4 linked regions of the Homo sapiens genome follow. The protein of the gene in region 4 binds, or shares a complex with, the protein of the main gene of each other region. Each region holds a gene or a part of one and is shown on either strand. Other genes may lie near its edges.

What was found.
Region 1: HNRNPH2 (region 4) and DDX5 share a complex: the UniProt entries of both Homo sapiens proteins name them as parts of the ribonucleoprotein complex.
Region 2: HNRNPH2 (region 4) and SRSF1 share a complex: the UniProt entries of both Homo sapiens proteins name them as parts of the ribonucleoprotein complex.
Region 3: HNRNPH2 (region 4) and ARVCF share a complex: the UniProt entries of both Homo sapiens proteins name them as parts of the ribonucleoprotein complex.

The regions. Positions count from the first base shown.
Region 1 is NC_000017.11:64,497,658-64,503,289, reverse strand, and holds the end of DDX5 (probable ATP-dependent RNA helicase DDX5), read left to right. Parts: coding exon 1-102; intron 103-191; coding exon 192-364; intron 365-740; coding exon 741-851; intron 852-1,066; coding exon 1,067-1,128; intron 1,129-1,220; coding exon 1,221-1,280; intron 1,281-1,976; exon of another isoform or gene 1,977-2,076; intron 2,077-2,450; exon of another isoform or gene 2,451-2,516; coding exon 2,517-2,741; intron 2,742-2,963; coding exon 2,964-3,367; 3' UTR 3,368-5,036; downstream 5,037-5,632. UniProt on the Homo sapiens protein: Involved in the alternative regulation of pre-mRNA splicing; its RNA helicase activity is necessary for increasing tau exon 10 inclusion and occurs in a RBM4-dependent manner. Binds to the tau pre-mRNA in the stem-loop region downstream of exon 10.
Region 2 is NC_000017.11:58,004,195-58,011,453, reverse strand, and holds the start of SRSF1 (serine/arginine-rich splicing factor 1), read left to right. Parts: upstream 1-4,207; 5' UTR 4,208-4,316; coding exon 4,317-4,510; intron 4,511-4,926; coding exon 4,927-5,111; intron 5,112-5,480; coding exon 5,481-5,653; coding exon of another isoform or gene 5,654-5,707; exon of another isoform or gene 5,708-5,853; coding exon 5,854-6,048; 3' UTR 6,049-7,259. UniProt on the Homo sapiens protein: Plays a role in preventing exon skipping, ensuring the accuracy of splicing and regulating alternative splicing.
Region 3 is NC_000022.11:20,013,728-20,021,173, reverse strand, and holds the start of ARVCF (splicing regulator ARVCF), read left to right. Parts: upstream 1-4,350; 5' UTR 4,351-4,585; intron 4,586-7,446. UniProt on the Homo sapiens protein: Contributes to the regulation of alternative splicing of pre-mRNAs.
Region 4 is NC_000023.11:101,411,163-101,414,670, forward strand, and holds the end of HNRNPH2 (heterogeneous nuclear ribonucleoprotein H2), read left to right. Parts: intron 1-773; coding exon of another isoform or gene 774-826; coding exon 827-2,176; 3' UTR 2,177-2,971; downstream 2,972-3,508. Other genes in the region: RPL36A-HNRNPH2 protein, read left to right, coding at 774-830. UniProt on the Homo sapiens protein: This protein is a component of the heterogeneous nuclear ribonucleoprotein (hnRNP) complexes which provide the substrate for the processing events that pre-mRNAs undergo before becoming functional, translatable mRNAs in the cytoplasm. Binds poly(RG).

The sequences.
Region 1 (5,632 bases), on a different chromosome or scaffold from region 4:
ACCAATCTGAGAAGAACAACCTACCTTGTCCTTGATGAAGCAGATAGAATGCTTGATATGGGCTTTGAACCCCAAATAAGGAAGATTGTGGATCAAATAAGAGTAAGTGTCCTTTGAAATATGTGATCAAACTGAATTGTGTTTTCACTCTTAAGAGTCTGATACTAATTTTTCCCCCCAAAATCCATTAGCCTGATAGGCAAACTCTAATGTGGAGTGCGACTTGGCCAAAAGAAGTAAGACAGCTTGCTGAAGATTTCCTGAAAGACTATATTCATATAAACATTGGTGCACTTGAACTGAGTGCAAACCACAACATTCTTCAGATTGTGGATGTGTGTCATGACGTAGAAAAGGATGAAAAGTAAGTTTTATTAACTCTGTTATATTTGCTTCCTAACAACTTTGCTGTAAAATTGAGGGATCATTGTTTGGTGAGTTGTTTTAGGTTATTTCAGTTGGTGTGATTTCATTTAGTTAGCCTACTAATCCTGAAAATTTCTTGAATCCTTCAAATAATGGCTGTCACCATTTATAGCTTTCCTATAGAAGGAATTCATGTGTCCCCTGGTTGACTTAAGGACCAAGGGTCGAACTGCTCGATAAGTGGATTAGCAGGCGTTTCCTCTTTGACTTCCAGCCATGTAAATTGAACTTAATGTTTTGCTGACCATAAATGTGTGGCCCTAGCAATGGTCTTTTAAAACTCAGGATTTTTCCTTTCTCTCTCCTATTATTAGACTTATTCGTCTAATGGAAGAGATCATGAGTGAGAAGGAGAATAAAACCATTGTTTTTGTGGAAACCAAAAGAAGATGTGATGAGCTTACCAGAAAAATGAGGAGAGATGGGTATGTGTGAGCTCCTCCATTGAAGCAGATTGATTAAAACAGCTTAGGAAAGGGCAAACTTGGATCACGAGCAGTGGATTTTTTTCATATCTGATAGTGAATTTAACTTTTTCATTTCTGGCGAAATTAAAGAGATCTGTGACCAAAAGTGGTCAAGCACTGGAGTCTGAGGTTTTCAATGTGAGTTTAATAACACAACTTGTCTTTTAACTTAGGTGGCCTGCCATGGGTATCCATGGTGACAAGAGTCAACAAGAGCGTGACTGGGTTCTAAATGGTAAATATTTCAAATGAAGTATTTTTCCCCCTTACTTAACCTAGCTAGAATTCTGCTCAGATAATTGATCATGTATATGCCTTCCTTTGTAGAATTCAAACATGGAAAAGCTCCTATTCTGATTGCTACAGATGTGGCCTCCAGAGGGCTAGGTTAGTACAAACTCGCATTCATGGCTTGGTTTCCCAGAAGATCTCCATTTAACTTTTTTAAAGAAAGTTTATTGCTTTCTTTAACCTGCATTTTTTCTAAGTTTTTTTTCACATAAAGGTGCTGTCTTTGTGGCAAGGCCTAGGCATGACAATCGGAGGACTCGAGGGGGATGGAGGACTAGTGATCGGCTGGCTGCTTCCAGTCGATTAGAGAGGTGAAAAAGCTGAACGTGTGCCAGTAATCTTCAAAAGGCAGAACATATCACCTCTGCCCCGTAAACTGTTCTCTCCGAGGGAAAAAATGGAAGTTATCCTCACAGTTCACTGCCGTGGTATTTCTTCTGTCCCATGCTTTGCATGACTGCCATGGTACAGCCTTGTTTCAAACTGTTCACTGTGATCTGTGGGTCTTTGAGTTTCAGTGAGTTTGCTGAAATGTCGAAGAAGTAGTTCCAAACTTCAATGTTCAATGAAATTTTTGTTCAAGTTTGAAATGGAGAGAGCAGCTTTAAAAGGTACTAAGCCTTTTACAAATTGGTGAGTACTGGCACATGAGATCTAGAGCAGGAGCAACTTCTCACACATAGTAAGTGGGAAAAGAAAGTGCTTTGAAAGTTCCTCCCTCACCTACACAGTAGTCGTCATGTCGAGACCTGCCAGAGAGAGACACATTCTCAAGTGAATCCTGGCTTCTTGGAAGCGCTTGCCTAGACGAGACACAGTGCATAAAAACAACTTTTGGGGGACAGGTATGTTTTCTTGCAGCTGCGGTTGTAAGGTCTTGGCAAGACAAGCAGTGTGGCCAGAATTTTGAACTTCTGATGAATGTGTAATGCAAAGGACCTTGTACATTTTTTTGTTTCAAGGTCCTCAAAATGAGCACATGAAGAGGTTGCTGTGAAACTTTAAGTGGCCCTACTGCGCAGAAGCATTCAGATGTCACTTGATGATCTGTAAGGGAACTTGCTGATTTGGGAATGTGCTTAGGGAACACACATTCCTTTTGACAGGGTCTGTCACTGGGTGGGTGATGAATTATACAGATGACATGTGCTTTTTTTTCTTTTTTCAACCTCAATGGTATTCCTACAGGAAATGGATAACCATTTTAACTGTATTTTTTGCAGCCCGTACCTTCTTGGGAATACAATTGTCTAACTTTTTATTTTTGGTCTGGCTGTTGTGGTGTGCAAAACTCCGTACATTGCTATTTTGCCACACTGCAACACCTTACAGATGTGGAAGATGTGAAATTTGTCATCAATTATGACTACCCTAACTCCTCAGAGGATTATATTCATCGAATTGGAAGAACTGCTCGCAGTACCAAAACAGGCACAGCATACACTTTCTTTACACCTAATAACATAAAGCAAGTGAGCGACCTTATCTCTGTGCTTCGTGAAGCTAATCAAGCAATTAATCCCAAGTTGCTTCAGTTGGTCGAAGACAGAGGTTCAGGTAAGGATGACTGATAGGAAATGTTGGTAGTTACGAGTCACATCGTTGTCTACAAATCCATTTAAATGGTATTGGAGGGTGAGTAAAACCTTGAATGTGAAAACTTAAGCTGAAAAATTGTAAAAACATTTCACGCCTACCATGAATAGATCTGTTTCTTTCTGTCCACAATGATTTGTGTCATAGACATAATTGATCAATTTGCAATTGTTTTCTTGACAGGTCGTTCCAGGGGTAGAGGAGGCATGAAGGATGACCGTCGGGACAGATACTCTGCGGGCAAAAGGGGTGGATTTAATACCTTTAGAGACAGGGAAAATTATGACAGAGGTTACTCTAGCCTGCTTAAAAGAGATTTTGGGGCAAAAACTCAGAATGGTGTTTACAGTGCTGCAAATTACACCAATGGGAGCTTTGGAAGTAATTTTGTGTCTGCTGGTATACAGACCAGTTTTAGGACTGGTAATCCAACAGGGACTTACCAGAATGGTTATGATAGCACTCAGCAATACGGAAGTAATGTTCCAAATATGCACAATGGTATGAACCAACAGGCATATGCATATCCTGCTACTGCAGCTGCACCTATGATTGGTTATCCAATGCCAACAGGATATTCCCAATAAGACTTTAGAAGTATATGTAAATGTCTGTTTTTCATAATTGCTCTTTATATTGTGTGTTATCTGACAAGATAGTTATTTAAGAAACATGGGAATTGCAGAAATGACTGCAGTGCAGCAGTAATTATGGTGCACTTTTTCGCTATTTAAGTTGGATATTTCTCTACATTCCTGAAACAATTTTTAGGTTTTTTTTGTACTAGAAAATGCAGGCAGTGTTTTCACAAAAGTAAATGTACAGTGATTTGAAATACAATAAATGAAGGCAATGCATGGCCTTCCAATAAAAAATATTTGAAGACTGAATTAAGTGGAAATTGTACTTTATTTTATATAATGTCATGTAAAACTTTGCTTAAGATGGTCTGGTTTTTTTTTTGTTTTTGTTTGGTTTTTTTTTTCCATGAAAACAAATGACTGTTCCTTTTTATTTAATTTGGGAGGCAGGGGGAATCAGAAGGCCCTTCTTTATAATGAGCTATTCATATTGCAGGAGTCAGAATGAATTGATACAGGTGAATTTTTAGTTACAGGCTAAATTGCATAAAAGCTTTGTCAGCTTCCAGCATCAGGGGAGTCATTTAATAGCCTTTTTCCTTATTTGCTAGTATGGTTAAATGAGAAAATAGTAAAATAGATACAAAGTCATCTATATAGTGTGAGAACGTGGGTGACTTTTTCAAAGTTTATAATTTAAAAAGCTCCAAATAACTGGCTTTTTCAAGAGACTTATACTCATGCTCTTGGCTATACTGTGAATTACTGAAATGTTGAACAAACCTGTGAAAGACATACATTAGCCCTTTAAGATGGCCAGGAGCTAAGCTTGAGTCTCCTTTACTGAATTTCGTTCTTAGTGCAGGTTACTTGTAGATTCTAGTCTTCACAGGCTCCCTGGGGCTCTTAACTAGTCACACTGGGAGTCATGAATGTCTTTCCAATAATTCAGGGAATTCTAGAGATCCTCAAACTGTAAGGTCTATTCATACTCAACACAAGGAAAAAACCTCATTAAAATTAATGACTAATCAGGAGGCAACGTAACCAAAAGCACAGTGAATGAAAGTTTTCATGGTAGGTTCAACATGGGTTTATTGCTAGAAAGATCCAGGGGATAGCTTTAGGTTTAACTTCGGCTCACCAACGTAACTTTCTAATCATTTATTTCAGTAATAGCTAGAAGTGGGTCTGAATGTTTTCCCAGAGTCTGATACGTGTTTTTTTTTGCCAGAAGAGAGGTCTTCAGGAGACTTCATTTAAATTCTGATTATTAAACTGAGGCTTTAATTGATGTTAATGCCTTATGTCAAATGTAAAGTTAGAATTTGCTAGGGCTGGGATAGGGAGTGATATTTCTAGGACTTAGACATTGAAAACTAATTCAGCCTGTAGTAACCTGGATGGTTTTCAATGGCATGGTTAGTCAAATTCATGGTTTTAAACTTAGAAGCAGCTTTCGGGGGAGAGGGTAGGTTGGAGCATTTATTACATATTTTACTGTTTAATGTCTTAACCGTGGGCCTTTTAATTTGTAAACACTGAAATGATTGTTGGGCTGTGGAAAACATTTACCTATTTACCTTGGAAGTTTTAAAAGACAGTCCACTTTTTAGCATGTGTGTTGTGTCCAGCCTGTGGTCGTCTTAACTAATAAATGTGATTTTTCTCCCCATTCTCTCTTTTTATTTATTTGCGTATAGGCCTTTTACCTGGTGTGAGTTCCTGAATGTGGAAAACACCTGGCAGTAGTACCCAGCTTTGCAGTTAATTACTATCTAGCTGGCCTTTTTTTAAACCCTTGTATACACTTGTAAAGAAGAACTATTTCCTGAACCTGGTACAGCACTTTACTAATGATAAAACTTTACTCCTGAATTACATTAACTCAATTGCTAAGCTGTTACCCCTCTTAATCAGGTAGTAGTTTGGTAGTCTCACAGTGAAATGTAGATTGTTCCTTTTTCCCTGAACCTCTTTAAAGGTTTTCGTAACTGAGGCTGGTATAAGAAATCATGGACTTTGGAATCAAACTTCCTCAGTCTGGGTATACCACTTTTCCACTTTCTGGGTAGGTCTTAAGGTCTCGACCTATTTAAATAGAAACTGCAAAATCAGAAACCTGCAATTTAATCATGAGTCTCTTAATAATAACAGTCACAAGTCTCATTGTTTTGATGAACCCATAGAAGGGGCCCCTGGAAGAAATTGCACGTACGTGGTTTTCTCTGACACCAGGAGGGTTTAAGACATGTCAGGGCCCCTTGGTTT
Region 2 (7,259 bases), on a different chromosome or scaffold from region 4:
TGCTTTTTTGATGTTTTACTCTTGTGGACTGAAATATGTTAACTCTGGATAACTGGTAACATCCTTAATTGTAATCATCACAAAGCTAACGCCATCCTGCAAGACCTGATAAAACAGCCGTCAAGACTTTTCCTGCCATATACTGACCTCATCATCAACTCCAGAACAGTTGGTTACATTCAAATACAAAAAAAGATGCCAACAGAAATAAGAATGTCCTATTCACTCTCAATTAAGTTTTACTTTGTACTGTGCTGAACTGAACAAAATCAGAAATTACTGCATTAAATTAGACAAGAATAAATCAAAGCAAATTCAGGTTGGGTGTGGTGGCTCATGCCTGTAATCCCAGCAGTTTGGGAAGCCAAGGTGGGCAGATCACTTGAGGTCAGGAGTTCAAGACCAGCCTAGCCAACATGATGAAACCCCATCTCTACTAAAAATATAAAAATTAGCCAGGCGTGGTGGCATATGCCTGTAGTCCCAGCTACTCAGGAGGCTGAGGCACGAGAATCACTTGAACCTGGGTGGAGGATATTGCAGTAAGCCGAGATCCTGCCACTGTACTTCAGCCTGGGTGACAGAGCGAGACTCCACCTCAAACAAACAAACAAAAAGCAAATTCAATTATATTTTTCTGGAATGAAATTACCTTGAAATTAAAAGTACCTATGTGTATTGTCTCATCCCTTCTTAAAATGAACTATCCAATTATAAACTACTGATTTCAGTTATCACTTCAGTTATCATTGACTTATGATTAACAGAAGCTTTGCCTGCATAAATTTAAACTGATGTATAAAAGAACAGAAAGAAAATGTGTTCAGCAAATAACTGTTGAATGAAAGAATCAACAGGCTGCAAGTTTTTAAAAACTCTCCTCTTTTCTGCCATTCACTTAATGGAACAATGCTAGAAACAGTAGATTTGTTGAAATAGTATCTTTTTTGGTCACCTTCTCATTTAAAAACATATCAGGCTCTGGCCAGGCACAATGGCTCATGCCTGTAATCCCCCCACTTTGGGAGGCCGAGATGGAAGGATCGCTTGACTTCAGGAGTTCAAAAGCAGCCTGGGCAACATGGCGAGACCCCATCGCTACAAAAAATACAAAAATCAGTCTGAAGTGGTGATGCATACCTGTAGTCTCAGCTACGAAGGACACTGAGGTGGGAGAATCGCTTGGGTCCAGGAGGTCGAGGCTGCAGTGAGCTGTGATTGCACCACTGCATTCCAGCCTGAGTGAAAGAGCAAGACCCTGTCTCAAAAAAAAAAAAAAAAAAAAAAAAAAAAGCCGGCCAGGTGCAGGGGCTCATGCCTGTAATCCCACTACTTTGGGAGGCCAAGGCCGGAGGATCACTTGAGGCCAGGAGTTCGAGACCAGCATGGCCAACATGACGAAACCCCGTCTCTACTAAAAATACAAAAATTAGCTGGACGTGGTGGCTCATGCCTGTAATCCCAGCTACCAAAAATACAAAAATTAGCTGGGCATCGTGGCACATGTCTGTAATTCCAGCTACTCGGAAGGCTGAGGCACAAGAATGACTTAGGCCAGGGAAGCAGAGGTTGCACTGAGCTGAGATCATGCCATTGCACTCCAGCCTGGGTGACAGAGGGCAACTCTGTCTCAAAAAAAAAAAAAAAATATATATATATATATATATATATATACACACACACACACAAACACACATCTATATATATACTTAAAGGATGGTCTGAAGAATAGGCAATCTATCCTTCCCTTGACAAATTTCAGAAGTTCTTTTTCCTTTTGGGATCTATGGACTCCTTTAAGAAGTTGATTAAAATTCCAAATCCTCTTCCCAGAAAAAAGTACACACATGCATATAATTTTGTACATGCACACATGCATATAATTTTCGAAAATATTACAGAAAGCTCAAGGATTACCAAAGGTCATCTGTAGATATACCGAGGATCTACGGCCACAAGACCAAGCATCCCTGCTCATTTCAAATTGAATTTGTATTTTGGGGTCACCGAGAAACATTTGTAAAATATATTTCATCAGCTTTTAGAATTAAGAAAACATGTCCTTCTCCTGAATGACCTATTTACTTTTATCCCAAAGGCACTTTGGATTTTGAATACACAATACTTCTGTACCCTTCTTTACCGTGACTTCTGGGAAGACTAAAGTAAAATTTGCAATCTATCTCAACAAATTCAACGGGCTTTCACTGCAGGCATTTTGTATAGTAATTTATGCGTATTTCATTTAATCCACCCCTCATTTTCCCATTCCTCTGATTTCTTACTCTAGCATTTTTTTTGTGTGTGTGTGAGATGGAGTCTTGTTCTGTCACCCAGGCTGGAGTGCAGTGGCGTGATTTCCGCTCACTGCAGCCTCCACCTCCTAAGGGTTCAAGAGATTGTCCTGTCTCACCCTACCGAGTAGCTGGGATTACAGGCACGCGCCACCATACCCAGCTAATGTTTTGTATTTTTAGAAGATACGGGTTTCGACATGTTGGTCTCCGACTCCTGACCTCAGGTGATCCGCCCGCCTCGGCCTCCCAAAGTGCTGGGATTACAGGAGTGAGCCACCACGCCCAGCCTCATCTAGTTTTCATGTTTTATGGTATCTCTGTAAGTTGCCTCACATCCTTGCGGAAAGGGACTACTGTAAATAAATAACATGAAGAAAATTATCCCTTAAATTCAGTGTGTAGATCTGTTATGGCAAATTTATGACTGCAGGGTTTGATTTTAATTTGTTGTTGTTTCCCCCTCCTTTTTTTTTTTTTTGGAGGAGTCTCACTCTGTAGCCCAGGCTGCAGTGCAATGGCGCCATCTCAGCTCACTGCAACCTCCGCCTCCAGGGTTCTAGCGATTCTCCTGCCTCAGCCTCCCGCGTAGAGTGGATTACAGGCGCCTGCCACCAAGCCCGGCTAATTTTTTGTTTTTTCAGTAGAGACGGGATTTCACCATGTTGGCCAGGCTGGTCTCGAATTCCTGACCTCAAGTGATCCAACCGCCTCGGCCTCCCAAAGTGCTGGCGTGAGCCACCGCGCCCAGCCTGATTTGAATTTTAATTCATTAGCGACGTTTAAAAATCCCAGGATTTCACATAAAAATCCAGATTTCAGACGTCGAAAAAAAATGTAAAATGTTATCTCCCAATGCCGCAGGCAAACAGGATCACAGTCCTGAATAGCAACCGCGGTATCTAGTGGTTACGGTTCTCACATCCATTTTGCTCCATTTTATTACCTGAGAGGACCGGTATTTTCAAAACCTGGTGTATCAGTAACTTTTAGGGAAAACTTTTGAAAAAAGGACTGCACACACGCACCCTTTCTTCCTTCTCGTTCTTTGAAAGGAAACAACAGAAACGATTCATTCTGCAGGCATTCTGCGCTAGTCCCACGGACAGGCGACTAACAAGAGATAAAAAGGTGTGGGTCCCATAGGCGGTACGGTGTTACCCCTTCTGGTTGGCGGGTACCACGTTGCCGGTCGGGATACGGACCCACTGCGACTAGCACTAGGAGTGCTGACCCGAGCTATGCAAAGTTCTGACGAGAAGGCGGAACGGTACTTAATGAAGAGGATTAAGGAATCTAAATCGGTTTCGCTAAATTAGACACATCTGTCTAAGCAGCCACGGTCTATTCGCAGCAGGGGCGGGAAGACAAACCAACGCCCCAGCTCTCCGTTCAATCACCCGCAACTCAGCTCTGGATTAGACGCACCCTACGAAGATACCCGGGTTTCCGGAGCAACCGCCCGGGCCGTCCCCCTTTGGCCCCGCCTCCGAGACTCTTTCCCGCCAAAGGCCGTTATCGCCGCAGAGCATGGTGGGACAACGCTTTAGGCTAGGTTTCACCAAGTGCTTTGAAGGCGCCGAGTTGCTTTCAAAGATCCTCATTCCTGGAGAAATCGACCATCCTTCAAGACCCGACCTGGATGACTAGCTCCTTTAACGAAAGTTCGTTATTTAACTTTTACCAAACGGCTGGTCACTCTGTTCGCAAACCACCCCAAGCTGGGAACGCGGGGGACTTTTTTACCCCCTTCGTGGGGAGGGTGACGTCGCGCGTGCGTGCGCGTGCGCTGAACGTAGCCCTCGCAGCACCCGTTGCGCTCCCGCGCGTGCGTGTTGGGATCGAATCGCTGTTTCCTTCCGCTTCTCTTCCTCTGTCTCCCCCCCATATCCGTGCGCCGAGCTGATAAAGGCGCCATTTTGGAGGGGCCGCGGGAGACGTGGTGCCGCTGCGGGCTCGCTCTGCCGTGCGCTAGGCTTGGTGGGAAGGCCTGTTCTCGAGTCCGCGCTTTTCGTCACCGCCATGTCGGGAGGTGGTGTGATTCGTGGCCCCGCAGGGAACAACGATTGCCGCATCTACGTGGGTAACTTACCTCCAGACATCCGAACCAAGGACATTGAGGACGTGTTCTACAAATACGGCGCTATCCGCGACATCGACCTCAAGAATCGCCGCGGGGGACCGCCCTTCGCCTTCGTTGAGTTCGAGGACCCGCGGTGAGGCGGCATGGGGCTTGCAGCCTTGAGGAAATAGGTCCGAGTAGTTGGGGAAGGCTCCAAGGCCTTAACATAGAGAACGGGGAAGCGGGGGCTCTTAGAGAGGTTGGGGCGAGACTGTATCGCCCATGCAGGAGTCGAGTAAGGAGCTGAGTTGATGTGGCTTCTCTGGCGCCTCGCCTTGGACGTCCCCGGAGCCCATTCGCAGGCTGGAGCGGGAAACTGAGGCGCTGAGGGCTGGTGTAGTGGTTGGGAGCCTGGCGTGTTTCTGGGTGGGGGAGGGGCCATTCCTATTATGCGGCGCATGTGGGCTCTTCCACGTTGGGTGCGCATGTGCGGGGGGTTTGCTGGTTCCCAACTGAGCGAGCTTCTCCTCCTGGTGTTTCTCATCCCTTTTACTTTCTGCGATCCCGCAGAGACGCGGAAGACGCGGTGTATGGTCGCGACGGCTATGATTACGATGGGTACCGTCTGCGGGTGGAGTTTCCTCGAAGCGGCCGTGGAACAGGCCGAGGCGGCGGCGGGGGTGGAGGTGGCGGAGCTCCCCGAGGTCGCTATGGCCCCCCATCCAGGCGGTCTGAAAACAGAGTGGTTGTCTCTGGTGAGTGTACTGGTTGTGTGGATTGATGTGAAGGGACGAAAACTACCTAAAATTTTTCTCTTGCGTGACAGGTTTAATAATTGCAAATTTTTCATGCTAGGTCTTAAATTGCTTTAGTTTTTGGGTGAATTTAATAAACGAGGATTGCTGCTGTGGTGATTTACCAAATTAGGTTGCGGTACTAGATACGAAGATCGTTACAAATAATTTTGGACTCTGGATTCCAGAATCTTACCAGCTCTCTTTACCTGGTATCACTTAAGTACACCTATTAAGTACTTTAAAGTACTCTTTGTCCTAATGTACCTTACCAGCTTAACGTGAAATTTAAGATAATTGGTACTAAGAAAAAAAAAATCACTTTTTCAGGACTGCCTCCAAGTGGAAGTTGGCAGGATTTAAAGGATCACATGCGTGAAGCAGGTGATGTATGTTATGCTGATGTTTACCGAGATGGCACTGGTGTCGTGGAGTTTGTACGGAAAGAAGATATGACCTATGCAGTTCGAAAACTGGATAACACTAAGTTTAGATCTCATGAGGTAGGTTATACACGTATTCTTTTCTTTGACCAGAATTGGATACAGTGGTCTTAACAGTGGAATTTCAAGGTAAGGATTCAGGCAAGGTTGTCCAAGTAAATTGCCAGATTTCTGGTTTTAGTTACATTGTATTCATTCAGCATGTCTGAAGATAGATGAAAGCTTAGATCTTTCAATGGAAAGTTCTGTCTATCCAATAGGGAGAAACTGCCTACATCCGGGTTAAAGTTGATGGGCCCAGAAGTCCAAGTTATGGAAGATCTCGATCTCGAAGCCGTAGTCGTAGCAGAAGCCGTAGCAGAAGCAACAGCAGGAGTCGCAGTTACTCCCCAAGGAGAAGCAGAGGATCACCACGCTATTCTCCCCGTCATAGCAGATCTCGCTCTCGTACATAAGATGATTGGTGACACTTTTTGTAGAACCCATGTTGTATACAGTTTTCCTTTATTCAGTACAATCTTTTCATTTTTTAATTCAAACTGTTTTGTTCAGAATGGGCTAAAGTGTTGAATTGCATTCTTGTAATATCCCCTTGCTCCTAACATCTACATTCCCTTCGTGTCTTTGATAAATTGTATTTTAAGTGATGTCATAGACAGGATTGTTTAAATTTAGTTAACTCCATACTCTTCAGACTGTGATATTGTGTAAATGTCTATCTGCCCTGGTTTGTGTGAACTGGGATGTTGGGGGTGTTTGTGGTTATCTTACCTGGGGAAGTTCTTATGTTTATCTTGCTTTTCATGTGTCTTTCTGTAGACATATCTGAAGAGATGGATTAAGAATGCTTTGGATTAAGGATTGTGGAGCACATTTCAATCATTTTAGGATTGTCAAAAGGAGGATTGAGGAGGATCAGATCAATAATGGAGGCAATGGTATGACTCCAAGTGCTATTGTCACAGATGAAATTGGCAGTATTGACCTTATACTAAAAGGCAGGGGTTAAAAATGATTATATACATTTTCCTTAAAACACTTGCAAACATTTTATTCAGTTGTCTTTAGCTACAATTGCTTTGCTTTTTAAACCTTGGCAATTGTGGCAAAATTATATTGCCCATTTTGTAGCAACTTATTTTGCTCCCTTCCCCCCATTTTTGTTTTAATAGGGACTAATGTGGGAAGAACTGGCTAATTTGTCACAGTGCTTAGTTACAACTGTTAATGTGTGACCTGCTGTTGGTGTACATGTGGGTACAGGGTGTTTTTAAATCCAACAAGATAGAGTATAATATCAATACTGCTAAATCTGCATGTCCTCTGTGTGACTGATAGAGCGTTGCTATTTCATTTTTTTAAGACAAAATGAAAGCAAAATATAGAGTTCCAATGTATTGGTGTAGATAATCTAGTTGGGAATACTTTTAAGTCTCACCTTCCCCTTTAAACTAATATTCATAATTGGTTCATATGTTTAAAAGACTTTAATTTACAAATTAAATTGCAAATGGGAGCATTAGATTTAGTTTTAGACTTAGGTGGGTAGCAATGCCAGTAAACTTAAATTACGTAACTTCTTGCAACCACGAAACCTGTAATACGCTGTACAGTAACAAGTGTTGGCATTATCAGTTGAACTGTAAATACAAAATGCTTCTTCCAA
Region 3 (7,446 bases), on a different chromosome or scaffold from region 4:
CACTAGCGGAGTCGGCCAGCCCCGGAGCCGCGCACTCACCGCCTCCGCCACCGCCGCCGACTTCCGGGTGCCGCGCCCGCGCGCCACCGCAGCCAGCCCAGTACCGCCCAGCCCGAAGCCGGCGCGTTCACCATTGGGCCGCGCAGCGAGGGGCGGGGCGGCGCGCCGCATGCCGGCGTCCCGTTGGCTGGGCGCGCTGTCGCTCGGAGGCTGCCACCTCCTGGCGCCCCGCCCCCGGGGCTGCGCCAAAGCTTCGGGCTGCGCGGGCGTCTGAGCGCTTCCTGATCCAGCGGCCTTCGGGGACTCCGCGGCTCCCTGCCTGCAGGGACGCCATGGGAGGTCGCAGCCGCCCCTGAGTCCATGCCCTCATGGACACCATCTGTCACCTGCTCACCCTGCGGCCTCTCTCGGAAGAGGTACAGGAATGCTCACTTCCGGACTGGCCCCCTCAGACTGCGTCCTGGTCTCCCCATCCTGTTCACTCAACCCCACCTCTGGACCTGGCCATCTTCCTCTTGGTCATCCCTTCCTTCACTTTATGGCCTCCAGGTCGGCTCTTTCCTCCCTGATGTCCCTGCCATTCCCAGTATGTACCCCCAGACCCTGGACTAGGCATTTGAGCACTATACCCTGCACACCCACCACCTCCCCCACTTCCACCCCCCAGTGTAGCCTTTGAGCTCACATCCAGGTCCAGGCCCCAGCGACGAGGGGCTGGCCCAGCTTGACTTGTGCAGGGTGAGCAGGTGGGCACTGACTGGGGCCCTCCCAACAGGACAGAGGCATTAGCTGGGACCGCTGCTCCTGTAGCCTCTGGGCTGTGCCTGGGCCTATGTGGCAGAAAGGTGGAGAGTCAAAGCCCAGAGGCTCAGGCCCTGCCTCAAAGTGAGCATTCAAAAAACTATGACATGGATGACAAAGACATTAGGGATAATGATAATGTGTAAAGCACTCTAAACCCAATGTCTGGGTCAGCAGTTCTTTCATCCCACTTTATAGATGTAAACACTGAGACTTGGAGCAGTTATGTCATTCAGTTGAAGTTGAAAAAGGTGGCAAGCAAGAGAGGCCACATTAGCTTCAACCTGTGTTGAAGACCTAGGTGCCCTGATGCCCTGCAGAAAACTGGGGCTCAGGGATGGGAAGAGCCTGGCTGGTAATCAGCAACGGCAAGAGTCTAACCTGGACCTACATGCGGGCCCGTTGTGCTCCACACTTTTGCTATCTTATCTGTGTTTCCCCTGGAACCCAACAGAACCTTTTACAAGGACTCCAGATGCCCAGGGACTCATGGCCAGCGGGCCGCAGACCCAGCCAGACATGGTTGTCTCTCCCACCATCCAGCAGTGGGATCATGTGGGGCTGGTACCAGTGATTTCCCTCTGAGCAGCCAAACCTATGCAATCTATAGGGCCAAGAGGTGGTGGTGGTGGACAAGTGGGATCTGGGGCTTGGGGGTGATGGACTGTGCCCTGGGGTTCATGGCAGCACCTGGAGAATGGGCTTCCCCAAAGCACCAGGCCATGCACCTCAAAGCTGGACATGAGTTGACCAAGGTTTCCCTTTGCCCACAAAGAGGGATGCAGTAACATGTCAGATGGTGGTTTGCATCCTGTTCTGTCATACCTTGTGGCCTTGGGCCATCCCCACCCCCAGCCATACTTTTCCCAGCTAGACAGAGCCAGAGCAGACACTCTGATCTTCTTTGTCACCACTGACACTCCAGTCTGGATGACATGCGATGCCAGGAAGCAGGTGACGGCAGATGAAATGGGTCTAGGATGGGCACCTAAGCCCTGGGATCTTGGGGCTGCAACAGGCTCACTGGCATCCAACCTCTAATTGCACACAAACTCAGATAGGAAGCTCACTACCTTCTGTGGCCACTCTTTTGATTTCAACAGCTGCCACTCTTGAAAAGTTCTTGACACCCAGCTGAAAGCATTTTCTCTCTGTGGCTTTCTCCGGGGGCCTCACAGCTGTCCGCATGGAGCTAGGTGAGAGGATGAGAGAGGGAGAACACTGGGCTACTGGTCCCTGTGGTCTCCCTTGCTGTGTTTTTCTTATCTTTTTCTTTTTTCCTTTTTTTTGAGATGGAGTCTCGCTCTGTCTCCTAGGCTGCCGTGCGGTGGTGCAATTTCAGCTCACTGCAACCTCCGCCTCCCAGGTTCAAGCGATCTCCTGCCTCAGCCTCCCAAGTAGCTGGGACTATGGGCGTCTACCACCATGCCCCGCTACTTTTTTTTGTATTCTTTTAGTAGAGATGGGGTTTTGCTATGTTGGCCAGGCTGGTCTCGAACTCCTGACCTCTGGTGATTTGCCTGCCTTGGCCTCCCAAAGTGCTGGGATTACAGGCATGAGCCACTGCGCCCAGCCTCCCTTGTTGTGTTTCTGACCCCTGGCTGCAGCCTAATGGGCCGACTGCTGGACAGCGGTCCTGAGTCCTGTTTGAATTGGTGCTGCCCCGACATCCTCTGACCTCAGCTAATGATCCTGCCTGCCGAGGGCAGACAGGTCTCTGCAACCCTATGGGTGGTAGGGGTGGTGATGAGAGGAGAGGTAGTCTCACTTGCACAGATTTTGGTGTATGGTTCTGTCTTTTGCACTCTTTCAACAGAGGTCTGTCCAGTCCCTCTTGCAAGTGTGGGGAGGGGGTGGTGCAGGACTATGAGGTAACTGTGAGAAGAGGGGCTCCAGCAGAACCAGGGTCCAATGGCCTTGAAGAGATGGCTGGGGACAGCTGGACTCATTACGTCTACTCCTAAATGGAGGAAACGACCCCTCAGCTACACAGCACCTGAGCCAGAATGTCACCATGGTGCTGCTCCACAGGATGACAGCTACCTGGTTTGTGAGGGCCCCTATTCTAGGGACAGCTACTTCATTCTGCCCTCCCAGAGCAGCAAGCAACAACCCTATGCCAGGAGGCCAATTGGCACGTCAAGTGCCAGCTCCAATCGATTGATAGTAGCTGCCTGGCTCTGAAAGGCAGCTGGGATCGATTCACCATGCTGCCAGCACACAGATGGACCCAGCGGTGGTCCCAGCAGTGAGTTCTTGCCTTGGGCCATTTCATTTTCTTTGTCCTGGCCAAGGAATGATTGGATGAACACACTGGACTCCCAATATGGGTGGATAAGACAAGAGTGTCTGGTCACACCCCTCCACCACTCATAAGCATGGTTGTGGGCAGTTTGGTTCCCCAGGCGGCCTTGGAGAATGCAATGAGCCGAGGAACTGGTCATCTCCAGGTGCATCCAGGGCAGGAAAGGATGACAGCATGCGTGAGCCAGGGTCACTGGCTAAGAAGTCATCTCAGGACCTCCCCCTAGAAAAGCCCACTGGGCAGCATCCCTGCTGGTTCCCCCCTACACCACAAGGTTACGCAGAGCTGGCGGAGGGTCATGGTCCCACTCATGTCAGGTGCTCTTAATCTGGCAAGGAAATGTAACCTACGTGAATCTCAACAGGCAGTGAAGCACCGTTTCTTCCTGACTCCAGGTAGGGTGAAGAAAATGGGACAGTAGTACGGGGTGCGGGCATAAACGCACAACTCTGCCTCCCCAGACGCAGAGCTGTGGGGCTGTGAGAATGCCAGGAGGAGGTAAGAAAGGGCGGCCCCATGGGGGGCCTGCAGGGTGGGACAAGCCCAAGAGGTCTCTACATCCAGGCCTGGTGGGGGAGGTGAGCCCCTGGTTTACCGAGGGGGTCCCTTCCTGCCCTCGGAAATACTGCAGCTCCTACCTCCATCGTCTCCCCGCTGCGGGGACCCAGGGGCGTGAGGATGAGAGAGCCCCCAGGCCCCAGGGTCAGACGACTGTGTTCAAGCAAGTGAGAACCTCTCTGAGGCTGTTTCCCAACTGTAAAATGGGGATAGCAGCAGAACTCTCTCTCGCGGCTTGCGTGAAGAATACAATTCGATGTCGACAGGAGGGAGCGGCGCGCAGCGCGCAGCGAGTAGCAGGCGCTGAAGAAGGATACCTGTGAACTGGGAGTGGTGGCGGAGGCTACGCGGCCAGAGTCCGGGGAAGGGGCGCCGGCTCTGCCAGTCCCTGCTCGGGGCTGGATGGTCGGGGGATGTTCTCGTAAGTCGGCTGGGAGGGAGCGGTCCCGCGTACCCTGCCACCGCCGCCGCAGAGGTTCGGGCAGGTGCGGGGCCGCGGCCCCTCCGCGAGGGGGCCGGTCATCCGCCGGGACTGACATCCCGGAGGCCCAATGGCAAGCCGTCATCTCCGCGCATCCGCCCAATCGGCGCCGGTTGCCGTGCCGCGCCGGGTCTCTCGACCAATGGGAAAATTTGCTGTCAGATGGGGCGGGGCGGAGATTCGCGTCGCCGGCCCGGTCCGCTTTGCGCACGGGCCGCGTGAGGGCGGGAGGGCTGGCCCGGGGTCTCGGGTTGCGCGCTGGGCCTGGAGGGAGGGGGCGGCCCCCGCACCGGTCCGAGTTGCGGCCGCGTGGACTGCGACCCGCGCCGCGCCGCACCGCGCCGCGCCCTGGGAACGCCGCTCCCCGCGCGCCAACGGACCCGGGGAAGCCCTTCTGGGGTCCGAGGCCGCGCTGCGGGGCCGCCCACGCTGCGCTCCAGGTAAGCCTGAGCCAGTGGGCGGGGTGTGGGACCCGGGGCTGGGGCCTCGGGTCGGAGCCGGGACTGGGGGCGGGGCTGCAGATATGGGACGCATTCCGGGCAGCGGTCCGGACAGGGTCCTATCCCTGGAGTCGAGATCCGGGCGAGGGTCTGGGCCGGACGTCGGAGCCAATCTCCGCCCCACCCGCGTCTTGTCCGCGCGCTCTGCGGCGTCCGAGACCCCGGGCCGGCGGGGGCGGGTCTCTTTGTGCGTGGCCTTGGGGCCCTACCCTACCCGTCCGGGCGTCTTGCACTGAGCACTCCAGCCGAGCGCGGCCCGACCCCGCAGCCGTGCCCGCCCCGCGCGACGCTTGGCGCCTAGCTGCCAGGGCCCTGCAGCCGCCGAAACTTTCCAACAGCCCGAGGGGCGGCAGGCCGGGAACTTTCCTGGGGCAGCGCGCCGCCGGGAAGCTCAGGGGCACCGACGGCCCGGAGGTGTCCTCGCGCCGCGCTGCTCCTGCCGCCTCGGGGGTGAGAGAGGGCGCGCCACCCGGACCCCCGGCCTGGGTCCCCCTCCCCACGCCGCCCTGCGCCCCCTCGGTGCCGGTGCGGAGACATGTCATCTCCACTCTGAGGGAGACTGCTCGGTTTGCTGGGGAGTCGCCCTGGGCAGGTGGCCTGAGAGCTCCAGCCTATTTTAATTTTTAAATAATTAAATATTGGCTGCTTACAATATTTCACCGTTTCTTAGCTATGTGTAATGTAACATACTTAAAATGGAACTAAAGGACTTCAGCTCCCTTTCCCTACATCCAGGCATATTTAGAAATAAGGAAAAGAAAGGTGCCCCGTGGGTATTTTTTAGAGTAGGCTCTTAATGCTGCTGTCTAATAACCTCAGGTGAGTACCCAGGCTGCTGTGGGGGAAACCTCCCCTATGGTATGGGCCAGGGGGGTGCAGTGGGAGCCTCCACCTCTCCCGACCTTAGCTTCTCTGGGGTAGCTGCCTTTACTTCTTCCTACTTCTTAACTACTGCCTTATCTGCCTTTACTCTGGGATCTGGGCGGTGTTTAGAGGTCTGGTCCAAACAAGGCAGGTGTTACCTATCTTGTACTCACTCTATTGGAGCTGGGATGGTGCTGAATGCAGGGGGGCAGTCAGCGCTCTCTTGCCCGGTGTGCCATGCCAGTGGCCGGTCAGCTCCTAAGCAGGTGATCCAGGCCTTAGATCAGGCGACAGTGTGAGCCGCAGCGTGTCTGGGAAGGCATTTCCCCCAGTCTTGCCCCATCCTATCCGCAATGTCTGCTCCCAGCTGTCCCCTGTCCCCACCCTACCCCCATTCTGGGGTCCACCAGCGCCCAGCAGAGGACTGGGCACAGAACATTCGCTAAGGGACTCAAGTCCCAGCTGAGAGGGTAGTTGAGCACAGCCAAGCCAGCCCCTGCCCAGCTCTTGGCTGAGCTGCCCTGTCAGGCTTTTCAGCATAAACACAAGGACCTTCTGACCAAGGTTCCTCCTGGGAGAACAAGTTCTGACCCTCAATCCTGCTAAATTTGAGTCTCCCCACCCACCACATCTGGGCTGCTTGGCTCCCATGTTTGCTCTGGCACTCCCTCCAGAGGTGGCCCTGTAGTCTCCCCCCAGTCCCGGGGCCCTCTGCATCTCTGTGGCTCTGTGAGGGTAGGGTAGCACCCCTCCTTCTGTTTGTGCTACACAGGGATTCAGGGTGAGTTCCCTGTGCTCCTTCACCCCAGGAGTCTGGCCTGGGGGAGCATGAGGCTGTCCTGAGTAAGGACAGAAGGTGCAGGAGCAGCAGGATCCCCGGTCTCTGGGTGGAGCAGGGAGCTCTGCACACGGATGCCAGGCACCACCCTCTGTCCAGCCCATCTGTCGTGCTCCCCGCCTGGCCCTGGCAGAGGGAGTGACAGGGTAGAGCTGGGATAGGGAGTCAGGGCCCATTCTGTAGACAGGGCCAGGAATGGAGGGTGGGGGTCCAGGGACAGCACTGCAGAGCACCAGCTGGGCCTTGGGGGTCCTGGGGACTTCCCTGATGGTGGCTTAGTCATGGGGAGGTGTCTGTTCTTTTGTCAGCAGCTTCAATTAAGACCAGAATGAGGCCGGGCGCAGTGGCTCATGCCTGTAATCCCAACACTTTGGGAGGCCAAGGCAGGTGGATCACCTGAGGTCAGGAGTTTGACACTAGCCTGGCCAACATGGTGAAACCCTGTCTCTACTAAAAATACAAAAATTAGTCGGGCATGGTGGCATGCGCCTGTAGTCCCAGCTACTCAAGAGGCTGAGGCAGGAGAATCGCTTGAACCGGGGAGGTGAGGGTTGCAGTGAGCCAAGATCACACCACTGCACTCCAGCCTGGGTGATAGAGCGAGACTCTATCTCCAAAAAACAAAAACAAACAAAACAACCAGGATGGGCTGGTCACGGTGGCTCGTACCTGTAATCCCAGCACTTTGGGAGGCCGAGGCAGGCAGACAGATCACCTGAGGTCAGGAGTTTGAGACCAGCCTGGCCAACATGGTGAAACCCTGTTTCTACTAAAAATACAAAACAAATTAGCTGGACCTGGTGGCATATGCCTGTAATCCCAGCTGCTGGGGAGACTGAGGCAGGAGGGTTGCCTGAACCTGGGAGGCAGAGGTTGCAGTGAGCCAAGATTGTGCCATCGCACTCCAGCCTGGGTGACAGGGTGAGACTCCGTCTCAAAAAAAGAAAAAAAAATACCCACAAAAAAACAAACAGAAAAACCCAAGATGAAGTCTTGGGTCACTCTGAGGGGACTTGGGATCAGGGATCCCTTAGTAGGTTTTCCTGGCTCAGGGCCTTCATATCTTGGCCTGTTTCAGGTCGGGAAGATGACCCAGAGC
Region 4 (3,508 bases):
GTGAATTCCCAATAATGTCTTTTTTTCATTTATCTCTGGAGCCCAAATATTTCCCTGATTTTATTGATTTGCATACATTTTTATATAATGAAGATATTATATAAAGAACTTACATAACCTGTGTTTTGTTTGTGTTTTAATTGTTGTTTAATCTTTTGATCTAGTGAAGTTTTTTATGTTTATATATTCAGATATAGCCATCTTTTATTTGTTGACATCTCCCACTGATTTGTTGCTGTTAATTTTTTTTTTTTTTTTTTTTTTTTTTTTGAGACGGAGTTTTGCTCTGGTCGCTGAGGCTGGAGTGCAGTGGCGTGATCTTGGCTCACCTCCACCTCCTGGGTACATAAAAGCGATTTTCCTGCCTCAGCCTCCCGAGTAGCTGGGATTACAGGCACCTGCCACCACGCCCAGCCAATTTTTTGTATTTTTAGTAGAGACGGGGTTTCACCATGTTGACCAGGCTGGTCTCGAACTGCTGACCTCAGGTGATACACCCACCTCAGCCTCCCAAAGTGCTGGGATTACAGGCGTGAGCCACCGCACCCGGCCGATTGCTGTTAATTTTTAATGGTATCTAACACGTAATAGGCATTGAATAAATAACTGCTAAAAAATGAATGAGTTAAAAATTTGGTGAACTCTCTGTTTATACAGACGTCTTACAGAAAAGCTGTCAGCATAATTGAATTTTCTATTAATAGTTTGCTTTTTTCTCTTACTATATCACGAGCATTTTTCCATGACAGTAGTCTTCTTTTTTTTTTTTTCAGCTACACCAAAATTGCATTGAGCCAAACTTGCCACCAAGAGCCCAACAATCACCATGATGCTGAGCACGGAAGGCAGGGAGGGGTTCGTGGTGAAGGTCAGGGGCCTACCCTGGTCCTGCTCAGCCGATGAAGTGATGCGCTTCTTCTCTGATTGCAAGATCCAAAATGGCACATCAGGTATTCGTTTCATCTACACCAGAGAAGGCAGACCAAGTGGTGAAGCATTTGTTGAACTTGAATCTGAAGAGGAAGTGAAATTGGCTTTGAAGAAGGACAGAGAAACCATGGGACACAGATACGTTGAAGTATTCAAGTCTAACAGTGTTGAAATGGATTGGGTGTTGAAGCATACAGGTCCGAATAGCCCTGATACTGCCAACGATGGCTTCGTCCGGCTTAGAGGACTCCCATTTGGCTGTAGCAAGGAAGAGATTGTTCAGTTCTTTTCAGGGTTGGAAATTGTGCCAAATGGGATGACACTGCCAGTGGACTTTCAGGGGCGAAGCACAGGGGAAGCCTTTGTGCAGTTTGCTTCACAGGAGATAGCTGAGAAGGCCTTAAAGAAACACAAGGAAAGAATAGGGCACAGGTACATTGAGATCTTCAAGAGTAGCCGAGCTGAAGTTCGAACCCACTATGATCCCCCTCGAAAGCTCATGGCTATGCAGCGGCCAGGTCCCTATGATAGGCCGGGGGCTGGCAGAGGGTATAATAGCATTGGCAGAGGAGCTGGGTTTGAAAGGATGAGGCGTGGTGCCTATGGTGGAGGGTATGGAGGCTATGATGACTATGGTGGCTATAATGATGGATATGGCTTTGGGTCTGATAGATTTGGAAGAGACCTCAATTACTGTTTTTCAGGAATGTCTGATCATAGATACGGAGATGGTGGGTCCAGTTTCCAGAGCACCACAGGGCACTGTGTACACATGAGGGGGTTACCTTACAGAGCCACTGAGAATGATATTTATAATTTCTTCTCACCTCTTAATCCCATGAGAGTACATATTGAAATTGGACCCGATGGCAGAGTTACCGGTGAGGCAGATGTTGAATTTGCTACTCATGAAGATGCTGTGGCAGCTATGGCAAAAGACAAAGCTAATATGCAACACAGATATGTGGAGCTCTTCTTAAATTCTACTGCAGGAACAAGTGGGGGTGCTTACGATCACAGCTATGTAGAACTTTTTTTGAATTCTACAGCAGGGGCAAGTGGTGGCGCTTATGGTAGCCAAATGATGGGAGGGATGGGCTTATCCAACCAGTCTAGTTATGGAGGTCCTGCTAGCCAGCAGCTGAGTGGTGGTTATGGAGGTGGTTATGGTGGTCAGAGCAGTATGAGTGGATATGACCAAGTTCTGCAGGAAAACTCCAGTGACTATCAGTCAAACCTTGCTTAGGTAGAGAAGGAGCACTAAATAGCTACTCCAGATATAAAAGCTGTACATTTGTGGGAGTTGAATAGAATGGGAGGGATGTTTAGTATATCCAGTATGATTGGTAAATGGGAAATATAATTGATTCTGATCACTCTTGGTCAGCTTCTCTTTCTTTATCTTTCTTTCTCCTTTTTTAAGAAAACGAGTTAAGTTTAACAGTTTTGCATTACAGGCTTGTGATTCATGCTTACTGTAAAGTGGAAGTTGAGATTATTTTAAAACTTCAAGCTCAGTAATTTTGAACACTGAAACATTCATCTAGGACATAATAACAAAGTTCAGTATTGACCATAACTGTTAAAACAATTTTTAGCTTTCCTCAAGTTAGTTATGTTGTAGGAGTGTACCTAAGCAGTAAGCGTATTTAGGTTAATGCAGTTTCACTTATGTTAAATGTTGCTCTTATACCACAAATACATTGAAAACTTCGGATGCATGTTGAGAAACATGCCTTTCTGTAAAACTCAAATATAGGAGCTGTGTCTACGATTCAAAGTGAAAACATTTGGCATGTTTGTTAATTCTAGCTTTTTGGTTTAATATCCTGTAAGGCACGTGAGTGTACACTTTTTTTTTTTTTAAGGATACGGGACAATTTTAAGATGTAATACCAATACTTTAGAAGTTTGGTCGTGTCGTTTGTATGAAAATCTGAGGCTTTGGTTTAAATCTTTCCTTGTATTGTGATTTCCATTTAGATGTATTGTACTAAGTGAAACTTGTTAAATAAATCTTCCTTTTAAAAACTGGAAAAAATCTTGAACTGATTGATTTTTATTATGTTCTGTCATATGGGCACACTGATTGACTTTACAATTCCCTCAAAGTTAAGATTTTTAATTTTAAAATTATAAATGATATTTAGCATCTTTATATGTTCATTGTTGCATATATCATTAATTATTTCTAAGATATATCCCTAGAAATGGGATTGCTGAGTCAAAGATATACTCATTTTTAAGGCTTCTGATTTGTGTTACCAGAAAGATTCTGGTACTTTATCTTTCTACTTGGAGTGTGTGTTTTATTTTCCCCCTTATACCCTCCTTATTGATGCACATTATTCTTTTTGAACTTTGCCAGTTTTTTAGTTGAGAAATGATATCTCATTGCTATTTTAATTTGTATTTTTTTGATTAATATTAAAGTTGTACATTCTTTTTTAAAAAAAACTTACCATGTCTACAGGACTATTGAGCTACTTTTGGAGACTGTACTTACCAAGATAGTATTCTCTAAAATCCAAAGAAGTGAAAGCAAATAAATAATCCTTTTTATTTCACCACAAACTAG